Linked DNA regions of Homo sapiens. The protein of the gene in region 4 purifies or fractionates together with the protein of the main gene of each other region. This does not show direct contact. Each region holds a gene or a part of one and is shown on either strand. Other genes may lie near its edges.

Region 1 (3,500 bases), about 14 Mb from region 4:
CTCTGTCACCCAGGCTGGAGTGCCGTGTTGCTCACTGCAACTTCCACCTCCCGAGTTCAAGCTATTCTCATGCCTCAGCCTCCCGAGTTCAAGCTATTCTCATGCCTCAGCCTCCTGAGTAGCTGGAATTACGGGTGTACGCCACCATACCTGACTAATTTTTGTATTTTTAGTAAAGATGGGGTTTCGCCATGTTAGGCTAGGCTAGTCTCAAAATCCTGACCTCAAGTGATCCATCCGTCTCAGCTTCCCAAAGCGCTGGAATTACAGGTGTGAGCCACTGTGGCTGGCCTGTTGGTTCATTTTTGAAAGGTTGTTTGGGTGGTCACTTACCTCTATATGCTGGAAAGTCCATTGCAAGACTCTAAAGCAAGTCCCTGAGAAAGGATTTCTTGAAACATGTTTGCTTAACAAAATGAATCTGAATCGCCTGGTGTATGTTGTTTTGTTTTGTTTTGTTTTTTGAGATGGAGTCGCACTCTCTTGCCTAGGCTGAAGTGCAATGGCGCCATGTCAGCTCACTGCAACCTCCACCTCCTGGGTTCAAGTGATTCTTCTGCCTCAGCCTCCCGAGTAGCTGAGATTACAGGCGCCCGCCAATAGGCCTAGCTAATTTTTGTATTTTTAGTAGAGACAGGGTTTCTCCATGTTGGTCAGGCTGGTCTCGAACTCCCGACCTCAGGTGATCCGCCTGCCTTGGCCTCCCAAAATGCTGGGAACACAGGCGTGAGCCACCGTGCCCGGCCCTAAAAAACGTGTTTATATTTATTCAATTGTAAATATTATCATGAGGCTCAGATACCTTAGATTTTAGTAGTTCATTAGTCCTGGTCAATTCAATAAGTTGTTTTTCCAGTGTAGCATTATTTGCAGAGAGAGATGTTTTTTCCCTTAGTGCAGCATTTAGCCTTGCTTCCATCTTTTCCAACTCAGTTTCCAGATCCTGGATCCGCCTGTCCTGGGCACCACGTTCCTGTAGAAGAACACGAATCTGGACAAAAACAAGGTGATAATAAATGATTCACTGATAGAATGCCAACATAAGGAGATGCTACCAATAATCACCCCTAAAGTTTCTGGAAAAATCTCTGATTTTGACATTATGCTTGTAGATATTCTAATGTTACTAGCTATTTGAATAATCATATTTACCTATGATACATCTTAAAAGTCTTAATGCATTTTAAGAACATAAGAACTTTAGTTGCCATAAGTTCCAAGTACAATTAAGCTATCTATTCACTTTTTTTTTTTTTTTTTTGAGATGGAGTCTTGCTCTGTGCTCTGTTGCCCAGGCTGGAGTGCAGTGGCACGATCTCGGCTCACTGCAAGCTCCGCCTCCTGGGTTCAAGCGATTCTCCTGCCTCAGCCTCCCGAATAGCTGGGACTACCAGCACGGGCCACCACACCCGGCTAATTTTTTGTATTTTTAATAGAGACGGGGTTTCACCATATTAGCCAGGATGGTCTCGATCTCCTGACCTCGTGATCCACCCGCCTCAGCCTCCCAAAGTGCTAGGATTACAGGTGTAAGCCACCACACCCGGCCGCTATTTATTCACTTTTAAGGTATTTCCACCTATAATAGTTATTTTCTCTAGCTTCAATTACACAAATTCAAATTAGCTTAAAATGCTAAATGTTTTTTATTTCAAGAAGGCAGAGCTGGGCTTCTGAGGAGAATGTACTAGGCATTGGCAAGCCATCATTCTTGCTGCTATTACCAGATTAAAAAAACAAAAAACAAAAAAAAACCCAAACCAATATTTGTCAACAGAAAATGTGGAAGCCAAAAGACAATGAAATGATATTTTTAATATAATGGGGGGGAACCTGCCACCCTAAAATTCTATACCCAATGAAGTCACTGGTGTAAATTATTAGTTCTAATCCTGGCTCTACCACTCACTTACCAGCTATCTCACTGAGACTCAGTGATTATTCCTGTAAGTATCAACCCCTACATGTACCCTCAGTAAAATGATAGCTAACATTATTAGAATACATAAAAAAGAATCAGAGCAACTGAGCAGACATTTACAGTTACTCTGACATACTCTTGGTTGAAAGCCAACATTCGACTGTAATCAAATGAAAGATTTTAATATATTGAAAGAATATATCCATGAGGAAAAGAGTTGGTCAGCAATGGAAACAGAAAAAAAAGACTGCAGAGAAGCAAAGTTCACAGTGAGCTGCTTAGCATTGCTAGGAAAGTAAATGGGTTCTTTAGGTTAGTACTGTTCAATAGAAATTTCTGTCATGGTGGAAATGCCCTGTCCAGTATGGTAGCTGCCAATCACATGTGGCTACTGAGCACTTGAAATGTGATTATTGCAACTGAGGAATTGAGTTCTTATTTAATTTAGATCATCACATGTGGTGAGTAGCTACCATATCAAACAGCACAGCTCTATGTTATTTCACCCATGAGGAAGGCCTATACCTATTGTGCAGAGCAATGCATCGAGTTAGCCTAACTTCATCACAGTCTAACCAGCTAGGATTGCATGCTCACTAAGAAATCCTCTAGCTATGTTGTGTTAACATAAGTTAGCATACAGGAAGACTGTGAACGATGGATAGATATAAATATTTGATCCACATATATAATTGTAATCAACTGACATAATGATTTTTCAGTTATCAGTTTTTCATTAAGTGGGCTATCTTTAATCTCGGCGTTGCCAGCATACCACATTAACATAGCCCGGATAGATCTGTGAAATACTGTAAGAACTGTTTTCCTGTAGGCACTGTTCTGGATGGCATGTTTGCCTCACTGCAGGACTCCTCACACTGCAACAGAATCCTTATCTCTTAAATCTGTGTAACTCTCTTTCTATCATGTGTACTTTTCACTAAGTTTAAAGCACTGCTTACCTCTTTCTCTAATATCTTCAAATCTTTATCATTCTTTTGAGATTCCTTCTGTTTAAAAGCCAAAAAAACTTATAAGCAAATTTAGATGTCACAGATATGACAGCCAAATTTGTTTTTCAGTTATCAGAAAAGATGAAGGGATCCAATCAGTTAGTTTCTATTTTAAACATTACACTGTTAAACATTGTGTAGGCCACTCATCTGATAAATAAAATATTCTAAAAATCTCAAGACATTTTAGGTTTAGAAATTTTCAACCCAATAAATCAGGATTTTCCTAATCAGCCCAGTGAAAAGAACAGGTGGAACTTTATGAATAAAGCTACTGACTGCCTCCCTCTAATGTTAAATAGCAACACATCTTGAATATTTAATTATGCTATCTCAGAAAGAATCTTACAAAGAGAAATCGACTTAAACTTTGATACCCGAAGAGGAAAATATACAGATGCAAAGAAATAAAAACTGAAACAGCATAAGCTCTGATTCTAATTTTCTCATTGGCTTTATTCTAAATAAGACATATAATTTTCACACTATATCTTTTTATATCCAACAGACTTTCTGACACAATGGCTAGAAAAAGAATATCTTTTCCATCTAAAAATGGAAGAAAG
Region 2 (3,500 bases), on a different chromosome or scaffold from region 4:
ATTTTGAAAGAAGGTAAGAGGGGCCGGGCAGGGTGGCTCACAACTGTAATCTCAGCATTTTGGGAGGCTGAGGCAGGTGGATGACTTGAGCTCAGGAGTTCAAGACCAGCCTGGCCAACAGGATGAAACCCTGTCTCTACTAAAAATGCAAAAGAATTAGCCAGGCATGGTGGCAGGCCCCTGTAATCCCAGCTACTCGGGAGTCTGAGGCAGGAGAATCACTTGAACCTGGGAGGCAGAGGTTGCAGTGAGCCGAGATGGCACCATTGCACTCCACCCTAGTGAACAAGAGCGAAATTCCGCCTCAAAAAAATAAAAAAAAAAACCCAAAACACTGAAATCTGAAATACAGAAAAAAAAACATACAATTCATTAAATAACAAAAATATGAATGGTTAAATTTACTAGTAATTGCTTAATACATTCTCTACCAAAATAACTTTTATTTTAAGAGATGAAGTCTTGCTATGTTGCCCAGGCTAGCCTTGAATTCCAGGGCTCAAGTGATCCTCCCACCTCAGCCTCCTGAGTAGCTGGGAATACTACAGGCACACATCACCATGCCCTGCTAAAATAACACTTTCTAAAGGATAATATTCAAGACAGGTGAAAGTGCCCTTACACAGGCACGACTACGACTAAAAGATCAATATATCCTTTCTGGCAAGCAAACAGTATGAAAATAATGAAAAATGTTTATATTTTTTGACACAGTAAACTCACGTCTAGAAATCTAAAAGAACCAGGGATGTAGATAAAAGATTTAAGTAGAAAGATGTACATTTGCGGCATTATTCATAATATGGGAGAACTGGAAACAGATATATTAAATTTTATATAAAATGAAATCTTATACAAAAACATGTTTTCAGCCAGACGCGGTGGCTCACACCTGTAGTCACAGCATTTTAGGGGGCCGAGGTGGGCAGATCATGAGGTCAGGAGTTCAAGACCAGCCTGGCCAACATGGTGAAACCTCATCTCTACTAAACGTAACAAAAATTAGTCAGGCATGGTGGCAGTTGCCTGTAATCACAGCTACCCAGGAGGTTGAGGCAGGAAAATCGCTTGAACCCGGGAGGCGGAGGTTGCAGTGAGCCAAGATCAGGCCATCGCACTCCAGCCTGGGGCAACAGAACAAGACTCCATCTCAGGGGGAAAAAAAAAAAAAAGAAAATCAGCCAGGCGTGGTGGCTCATGCCTGTAATCCCAGCAGTTTGGGAGGCCGAGGTGGGTGAATCACTTGAGGCTAGGAGTTTGAGAACAGCCTGGGCAAAACAGTGAAGCCCCATTCCTACAAAAAACACAAATATTAGCTGGGCATGGTGGTACGCACCTGTAATCCCAGCTACTTGGGAAGCTGAGGCAGGAGAATTGCTTGAACCCAGGAAGAGGAGGTTGAAGTGAGCCAAGATCATGCCACTGCACTCCAGCCTGGGCCACAGAGTAAGACTCCGTCTCCAAAAAAAAAAAAAAAATCAATTCAGGAGAACCGGACAAAGTAGCTCACACCCTGTAATCCCAGCACTCTGGGAGGCTGAGGCAAGCGGATCACTTGAGGCCAGGAGTTTGAGACCAGCCTGACCAACATGGCGAAACCCCATCTCTACTAAATATACAAAAATTAGCCCGGCATGATGGCACATGCCTATAATCCCAGCTACTTGGGAGGGTGAGGCACAAGAACTGCTTGAGCCCCCCAAGGCAGAGGGTGCAGTGAGCCGAGACTGTACCAATGCACTCCAGCCTGGGAGACAGAGGGAAACTGTTTCCCAAAAAAAAAAAAAAAAAGGCAGCCAGGTGTGCTGGTATACACACCTATAGTCCCTGCTACTCAGGAGGGTGAGACAGGAAAATCACTTGAGCCCAGGAGGTCAAGTTATAGTAAGCAATAATCACTTCATTGCACTCCAGCCTGGATGACAGAATAAGACTCCATCTCCAAAGGGGGGAAAAAAATTCCAACTTTAGATTAAATGTCTACTGAAAAAGTTATGTTACTAATTGATTTCGTACCTATATACTCATAGTATCTAAAAAGCTCTGGAAACATGTAGTTTTATTAAACGGTTCACTGCAGAATAACAGTATTAAGAAAGATTCTCAGCCGGGTACAGCATACCCCAACACTTTGGGAGGCTGAGGCAGGAGCATCACTTGAGCCCAGGAGCTTGAGGCTGCAGTGAGCTATAATTGGGCCACTGCACCCCAGCATGGGTGATACACTGTCTCTTAAAAAATAATCAAAAATCAAAAAATTTGAAATTTTATTCAATGAAAAAGATTCTTATTCAGCTATACTTATTACCACTTTTGAATTCCTACTACAATTATCACAGAAATTTGTCTGAATTTTTGAAGATACATAAAACACGGTCAGTAATTTTCACTTTGCCAACTGAACAGTGGTGATTCAGATAGATCATCATAAAATTTATACAATGTTAACTAGTAAGAACTTTTAGGCCAGGCAGGATGGCTCACACCCCTAAACCCAACACTTTGGGAGGCCAAGGGAGGCGGATTACCTGGGGTCAGGAATTCAAGACCATCCTGGCCAACATGGTGAAACCCCACATCGACTAAAATTACAAAAATTAGCCAGGCATGGTGGTGCATGCCTGTAATCCCAGCTACTCAGGAGGCTGAGGCAGGAGAATCGCTTGAACCCAGGAGGCGGAGGTTGCAATGAGCCGAGATCATGCCATTGCACACCAGCCTGGGCAACAGGAACAAAATTCCTTTTCAAAAAAAAAAAAAACTCTTAGCCTAATCTGGGATTAAGTCCTGTGGTTCCACCAAACAGTCACATGTGACCCTAAGCAAGTCACATAAATTCTCTAAACCTTAGTTCCCTCATCTGAAAAGGATGACAGAGTACCTCCCTCAAAGAACTGATTAAATCAGCAGCATGCAAAGCATGTAAAGTACTTAAGTACCCAACACAAACTATTCAATAAAGTAATCTGCTTTAAAAATAAAACACACTGAAAGGCCGAGGCAGGTGGATCACCTGACATCATTAGTTCAAGACCAGTGTGGCCAAACTGGTGAAAATTAGTCTCGACTAAAAATACAAACATTAGCTGGGCGTGGTGGCAGGCGCCTCTAATTCCAGCTACTCAGGAGGATGAGGCAGGAGAATCACTTGAAGCAAGGAGGTGGAAGTTGCAGTGAGCTGAGATCGTGCCATTGCACTGCAGCCTGGGCAACAGAGTGAGACTCCGTCTCAAAAACACCACCACCAACAAAATAAACACAACAGAATTATTCTGCAAATACAGATATTGGAGTAGCTGAGTTCCATCTCAAATTTGACTATGCAGGTTGACAGGTGATCTTGGCAAACTACTTATCCTTTCTGAAGTTCAACTTTTTCACCAAATGGTATTGGGATACAACACTTGCTCTTGCCTATCTCACATGAATTATCCATTTTGGACAACTTGGTAAACTATAACCCACCAAACGAATACACAGAGTAAAATCTACAACACATA
Region 3 (3,500 bases), on a different chromosome or scaffold from region 4:
CTCAGAAGCTGCTCCTGGAGACAGCTGCCCCGAGGGTCTCCTCCAGTAGACGGTACAGCGAAGGCAGAGAGTTCAGGTGAGTCCGACGCCAGGCGTCCACTTTCTGTACTCACCTCCGAGAGCTGGAGAACAAGCCAGGGAAAGGTGCTGATGAGGCGGGCGTTAACCCACACCGGATGTCCTGCTGCCGCTGGGGTTGAATTTTGGTTCTGTTCTTATTTGTGATACTTTTGCATTTGTCATTACTTTTTTATATTTGTAATGTTGAGAACACTTTTACTGAGAACAGACTAAAATATATGACTTTATGAGTCATTAGGAACATCGGAATTCTTAGAAGTCACAATGACATGTAAACTTTACCCTTCAGCAGTAAAGTCTGTCACCTCTTAAATAGGAGCTGGATCTACCCAGTAGACATGGTCCTTTCCGCTTAATAAAGGGAGGAGTGGACGTTTCAGGGCATCGATAAGAATTGGAGAATTGGATTCTTGCTTTTTTTTTTTTTTGAGACGGAGTTTCACTTTTGTTGCTCAGGCTGGAGTGCAATGGTACAATCTCAGCTCACTGCAACCTTCGCCTCCCGGGTTTGAGCGATTCTCCTGCCTCAGCCTCCTGAGTAGCTGGGATTACAGGCATGTGCCACCACGCCCGGCTAATTTTGCATTATTAGTAGAGGTGGGGTTTCTCCATGTTGGCCAGGCTGGTCTCGAACTCCCGACCTCAGGTGATCTGCCTGCCTCGGCCTCCCAAAGTGTTGGGATTACAGGCGTGAGCCGCCGCATCCGGCCAGATTATTGCTTTTATAATGATCTTCTAAGCTTCTTCCTACAGGCTGAGAAATAGCAGGGGGGACGTTTTACGTGTGGGGAATGGTCAGAGTACTTTGAAAACTTCCTGTGGCTATAGTGGGCATTCCAGGATTGGGCCTTTTTTCCTGCCAACAAAATCTGTTGGTGCTGTTGTGTAGTCCACAGCAGCCTGGACCCTGAGGCGATCCTGGCAGGGCCTGTGGGGTGCGTGTGTTGCCTGGGAGGGAGCAGAGTGGTGCTCAGCCTTGGAACCTGTTTCTTCGTTCTTCCTTCCCTGTGATCCCTGCGTGGTTCCTGGAGGTTTATTTGGCTTTCGGGCTGGCATCTACTGTGCTTGTGAGCAGAGCGCATGCATTTCCCACTCTTTCCCTAGAGCTGGTGACCGGAGGCTCCGGCCTGTGTAACTTTGAAAGCCTGGAATTCATGTGACCCCTGCTGACCTAATCAAGACTCCGAAAGCACAGCCCCATGTGCTGGGACTCTCCTGAGGAGTTATTAAAAACTCGCATTAGTTCTTCAAGCTTACTGTGACACAGAAATTGGCTACTCGCTCATCAACACAGGATTAAACATGTCTAAGGTTAAACTTGTAGTCTAAGTGATACGATTTAAGATGGACTGTCGACTGGGCGCAGTGACTCACACCTGTAATCCCAGCACTTTGGGAGGCCGAGGCGGGCGAATCACCTGAGGTCGGGAGTTCGAGACCATCCTGGCCAACGTGGTGAATCCTCATTTCTACTAAAAATACAAAAATTAGATAGGCGAGTTGGCGCATGCCTGTAATCCCAGCTCCTCGGGAGGCTGAAGCAGGAGAATCGCTTGAACCTGGGAGGCAGAGGTTGCAGTGAGCCTTGGTTGTGCCATTGCACTCCAGCCTGGGCGACAAGAGGACAAGAGTGAAACTCTGTCTCAGAAAAAAAACAAAAAAAAAACAAAAAAGGATTGTGTAGGTTAATTGGTTAATTTTTTTTTTTTTTTTGAGATGGAGTCTTGCTCTATCGCCCAGGCTGGAGTGCGGTGGCGCCATCTCGGCTCACTGCAAGCTCCGCCTCCCAGGTTCACGCCGTTCTCCTGCCCCAGCCTCCCAAGTAGCTGGGACTACAGGCGCCCGCCACCATGCCGGCCAATTTTTTGTATTTTTAGTAGAGACTGGGTTTCACCATGTTAGCCAGGATGGTCTCGATCTCCTGACCTCGTGATCGCCTGCCTCAGTCTCCCAAAGTGCGGGGATTACAGACGTGGGCCACCACGCCCGGCCTTTTTTCCCTTTTGTTCATTGTCTTTAGCCAAGTGGTATTTATTTAGCAAGCATTTTAGGACACAATATGCCGCAAAGTTATCCTGTTGAGTAAGCCTGGTATAAACTGAGAGTTTCTTTCTTTCTTTCTTTTTTTTTTTTTTGAAATGGAGTCTCGCTCTGTCACACAGGCTGGAGTGCAGTAGCACTATCTCGCTATCTCGGCTCACTGCAACTTCTGCCTCCTGGGTTTAAGTGATTCTCCTGCCTCCCGAGTAGCTGGGATTACAGGTGTGTGCTACCATGCCTGGCTAATTTTTGTATTTGTGGTAGAGACAGCGTTTCGCCACGTTGGCCAGGATGGTCTCGAGCTCCTGGACTCCAGTGATCTCAGCCTCCCAAAGTGCTGGGATTACGGGTGGGAGCCACTGCACCTGGCTGGTTATTTTTTTTGCTTGTTTTTTTGTTTGAGATGGAGTCTCGCTCTGTCGCCCAGGCTGGAGTGCAGTAGTGCAATCTCAGCTCACTGCAACCTCTGCCTCCTGGGTTCAAGTGAGTCTCCTGCCTCAGCCTCCCGAGTAGCTGGGATTACAAGTGTGAGCTACCATGCCCAGCTAATTTTCTGTATTTTTAGTAGAGATGGGGTTTTACCACGTTGGCCAGTCTGGTCTCGAACTCCTTTCCTCAAGAGATCTGCCCGCCTCAGCCTCCCAAAGTGCTGGGATTCCAGGTGTGAGCCACTGCGCCCGGCCCCGGCTGGTTATTTTTAAGATGGGACTGAAGTTGAGGGCTGGGCTGCAGGAGGAAAATGAGCTCCGTTCTGATTTCCACTGTTGGAACCCCAGTGCCTCCCTCCCAGCCACTCTTCAGTTCTTGGCTGCGAGCAGTAGCTTTGCTGTCTGTCCTTGGTTTGCTGTATTTGTAATAAGGAACCTTTGCTATGAAATTAGTGGGATACATTGGCTTCTCCTGTCTAATTTTGTGTAGCTCTGTCTACACAGTTTGGGTCCTAACTTGACTGCTCTGGGGCTGCTGGTGGCAGAGGACCCTGGGGCTTGGGAGTCGTGTCTGCGGTTGAATCCTCTCTGTGGGAGGTGGCCTGTGGTGCAGCCTTGTGGCTTGAAGATCTCTGATGTTGGAATGGTTGCTTGTCAGCACAGACAGGGCATGAAGTCCAGGCTGCGTTCCTCACATTTAGACCATTCTCTTTGTCCTGCCAGGTGTAGGTGAGGGTGCACTAGGTTGGAAGTCGTGGAAACCCACCCACCTGAGCCCAACCCTGAAGGGCACTGTTGAGGCAGAGCCTCAGGTGTGCCTTAGGGCCTGGCACCTTTGCTTTGTGCCATTCTGACTTTGCCTGCCTGGTGGGCGACTTCGTGGGCTTTGTGTTGGAGGTGGCTGCTGCAGTGACCTTGGGCTCTGGGCTCCCTTGTTTACAGATGCTTCCC
Region 4 (3,479 bases):
ACAAAAAATGCCTTGCTGACTCACTATTAAATAAAAATCTCCCCAATTTTTTGATAGACTACTTCAAGCCATTTGTTACATGGTATTCCTTTGCAAGTCAATTTAGGTTTCGTGTTATAACTTTTCCTCTTTTTTTAAGAAAAATGAAAAAAGTAATTCTTTTGTCTGAAGGGGAAAGGCATTCTTTCATTTTTTTCTTTTTTTTTTTTTTTTTTTATGACTTGCAGGCACAATATCTAGTACTGCAACTGCCAGAACTTGGTATTGTAGCTGCTGCCCGCTGACTAGCAGCTGGACTGATTTTGAATAAAAATGAAAGCATTAAAGGGTTTCCCTACAAAACATTTTTCTTTAAAATACTTTTGAAATGGCTATAAGCAGTTGACTTTCACCCTTGGAGAGCATCACACTGTGTGAGGTTCAGTGATTGTTGACCCTCCCCAGCCCCTCCTGCTTCTTTAAGTTATCTGTGTGCGTGCGCTTCCTCTCAATCTTCTTTGCACGCTCATTTCTTTTTCTCTGACCCATGAGAAAGGAAAACTTACTGATGATAATTTTTAAATAGTGTAATTTATTCATTTATAGCATGTCAGGATAAATTAAAAGAACATTTGTCTGGAAATGCTGCCGGGAGCCTATTGTGTAAATGTAGGTATTTTGTAAAATAACCTTGAAATTGTAAATTGACACGTGTTTGGTCAGATTGTGTCAAGTTTAATTTGTTTTGTTTTCTTTTTTCTTTTTTTTATTTGAAAACTACTTTAGCAATAATTAATTCCATGATTATCACATTCTGCCATTAAGGGATATTAGTACCGTAATACTGAAGAAATTTTATTAAGTCTGAACTTCTGGGGTAGGCAGCTTCTTTGTTTCTTTTCTATCCACCCTTGTCGGTTGAGGTATTTGTTTCTTGACTAATAAACCCTTTGATACTTTTAGCCAGAAATCAGTCTCATAAAGCTATTTTTGAGTATAGTTTGTGTAAAATAAAAATGTTTAGCTTTGGTAATAACTTCCAAGCTGAACTCCCTCTAGCAAGATATTTTTCAGTGCTTTTATTTACTATGCACTTAGACTATGCACTTTTTCTGAAATATTTTTGTAACACTTTTTTGTATTTTTGCCATTTGAAAAGGTTGTGGTGTAGTTGGTCTGTAATTAAGTTGCAGATTTAAAACTGCTGTTAGCTTTGTAAATCAAAATATAGGTGTTTTTTGTCCTGGTATATCGTCATTCCATCTGCAGCTGGAGCTGGAATCCCATTGATCTTCTAGCTACCATTCATTTTCTTCACTGTTCACAAAAGAAGAGTGTGAAATTCAGTGAATGCTGTTACTAATCCTGTTACGAGATGAATCTCATTTCACCAAAATTAAATTATGTTTTTCCGCTAAAATGATGATACAAGTTGAAGACACATCACTCTGAAATTGGAAGACCTCACCACTTAAGGCTCCACAGTGGCTTACTCAGCTGAACTCTAGGTTACTACTCTTTACTTTGTTCACCCATTGGGGGGTGCAGTTTTTTTAAAATGTTGGGAGATGGCCATTCTAACTACTGTTGAATGTCTCTGTTTTGGGAAGGTATAACAAGAAATAAAAAAGAATATATATGAAGGGAGAGACTGGTTATCTCCTCCCATATGGTTGTGCTTATCCTCTTATGGCTTACAAATGAATATTTGGAGGTTTGCTTTCACAATGATTTCCCATCAACAAATATTTTTAGTAGGATTTTTCCTGTTTCTGTTAGTCCTTGCAGTACTCATAAATGTTTTAAGCTGAGCATACTGTAATAGTCATAAGTTTAATTTCATTATAATAAAAATAATCAAACAAAAGGACTTTAGAACCCAAGACAATGAGCTAGTTTTCCCTAAAGTTTGCTGAACTATTAAGGAATATGTTCTTATAGCTTTTGACTAGAATGAGTCATGGGAATTCTAAGAAGGGATGGCCTAGACATTTTTAGCTCAGTTAAATTCAGCATTTAATGCAGGTGAGTTCCTGGGTCGTTTTCCAACTAGTCTGGAACAGTCTGGTTCTGACTCAAACTGGTATAAAGCATTATTTTAGGTTTTCTCTTTGCCAGTTTTTAAGCAGTTATAACCATGTAAATCAAGATGTGAGGACATCTATATGAAGTATAGTAAAGAAGTGGTGTCAGCAGATCAATATGTGTGTCCTGGGTGTGCTGCTCTCTTAAGTGAGACTTTGTGAGACTATACTTTAAATGCATTATTACCATTGCTTACATTTTGGGGGATTTTCTTCCTCCTCAAAACTTCCATTTCTATTGTAATATTCTTAATGACAATCTTTTTTTTTTTTTAGCAGTGTATGTTTGAAACAGCCAAAGATGGCGATGAACCAAGTGTAAATTGATCTAAGCAGCCCATGCAGTTTGTGTTGAATCAACAAACAGTGTATTGTTGAAGTGAAATTATTTTCTGAAATGACTTGTTAGACCAGTTTTGAGGACATACTCAAAAGTAGAGTAATAATGGCTCCTGGGATGGAGAAATATGAGATGAACCTGGAACATTCTATTATGGTGCCACAAAGGAAATCTAAAAAAAAAAAAAAAAAAAAAAGTGGTTGGCTAGGAGCAGTGGCACACGCCTGTGATTCCAGCACTTTGGGAGGCCGAAGTGGGCAGGAGTTCAAGACCAGCCTGGCCAACATAGTGAAACCCTGTCTCTACTAAAAATACAAAAATTAGCCGGGTGTGGTGGCGGGCGCCTGTAATCCCAGCTTTTCAAGAGGCTGAGGCAGAAGAATCGCTTGAACCCGGGAGATGGAGGTTGCAGTGAGCTGAGATCGTGCCACTGCACTCCAGCCTGGGCGTTGCAGTGAGACTCCGTCTCAACAACAACAAAAAGGTGGATACATGTCAAAAGGGCACAGGAGCCACTTGAAGGATTATACTTGCTAAATCTGTGTCAATTATCAAAATAAACTGGTAGCAACGTTACAACTCACTGAATAAGATACCATGATTCCATGTTGACTTAAAAATGGAGAGAAGAGAAAGCTCTAACTTGAATGTCAGCTAATTTAAGGTGAAAGGATTTTATGTGTTAGAAAAATCACCATTTTGCAAACTAGTTTTCAGAATCCTTAATATATGTCATCTCTTTTATTCCTCATAACAGTAATAAGAAACAGTTAACTGTTTCAGAAAAGAGTGGGGCTGCCCAAGGCAAGGCATGTTGGTAATTGGTAAGCTTTATAGAGCCAAGACCTCAACCTGATTTTCTTGCTTTCATGCAGTTAAGCCATGGTGCTCCTCTTGTTATATCACCCTTTTAAACCCAGAGATTGATAGTATTAGCCATCATTTGCTGAGTGTCATGCACTATTCTAAGTGCTTTACATGTATTTGCCTAATCAGCGCCCTGTGAAGTACATCCTGTCTCCATTTTGCATATAAGGATACCAAAGCACAGAGTTGGAGGGAAGATAGTTATATTC

What was found. The genes of interacting proteins can lie anywhere in the genome.
Region 1: the proteins of CSNK1A1 (region 4) and HMMR purify together in Homo sapiens (affinity purification with mass spectrometry; 8 studies listed by BioGRID and IntAct, with this or other methods). This does not show direct contact.
Region 2: the proteins of CSNK1A1 (region 4) and USP34 purify together in Homo sapiens (affinity purification with mass spectrometry; 5 studies listed by BioGRID and IntAct, with this or other methods). This does not show direct contact.
Region 3: the proteins of CSNK1A1 (region 4) and AXIN1 purify together in Homo sapiens (co-immunoprecipitation; 4 studies listed by BioGRID and IntAct, with this or other methods). This does not show direct contact.

The regions. Positions count from the first base shown.
Region 1 is NC_000005.10:163,467,132-163,470,631, reverse strand, and holds part of HMMR (hyaluronan mediated motility receptor), read right to left. Parts: intron 2,932-3,500; coding exon 2,884-2,931; intron 992-2,883; coding exon 803-991; intron 1-802. UniProt on the Homo sapiens protein: Receptor for hyaluronic acid (HA). Involved in cell motility. When hyaluronan binds to HMMR, the phosphorylation of a number of proteins, including PTK2/FAK1 occurs.
Region 2 is NC_000002.12:61,461,088-61,464,587, forward strand, and holds part of USP34 (ubiquitin carboxyl-terminal hydrolase 34), read right to left. Parts: intron 1-3,500. UniProt on the Homo sapiens protein: Ubiquitin hydrolase that can remove conjugated ubiquitin from AXIN1 and AXIN2, thereby acting as a regulator of Wnt signaling pathway.
Region 3 is NC_000016.10:342,724-346,223, reverse strand, and holds part of AXIN1 (axin-1), read left to right. Parts: coding exon 1-76; intron 77-3,500. UniProt on the Homo sapiens protein: Component of the beta-catenin destruction complex required for regulating CTNNB1 levels through phosphorylation and ubiquitination, and modulating Wnt-signaling.
Region 4 is NC_000005.10:149,492,482-149,495,960, reverse strand, and holds the end of CSNK1A1 (casein kinase I isoform alpha), read left to right. Parts: 3' UTR 1-2,979; downstream 2,980-3,479.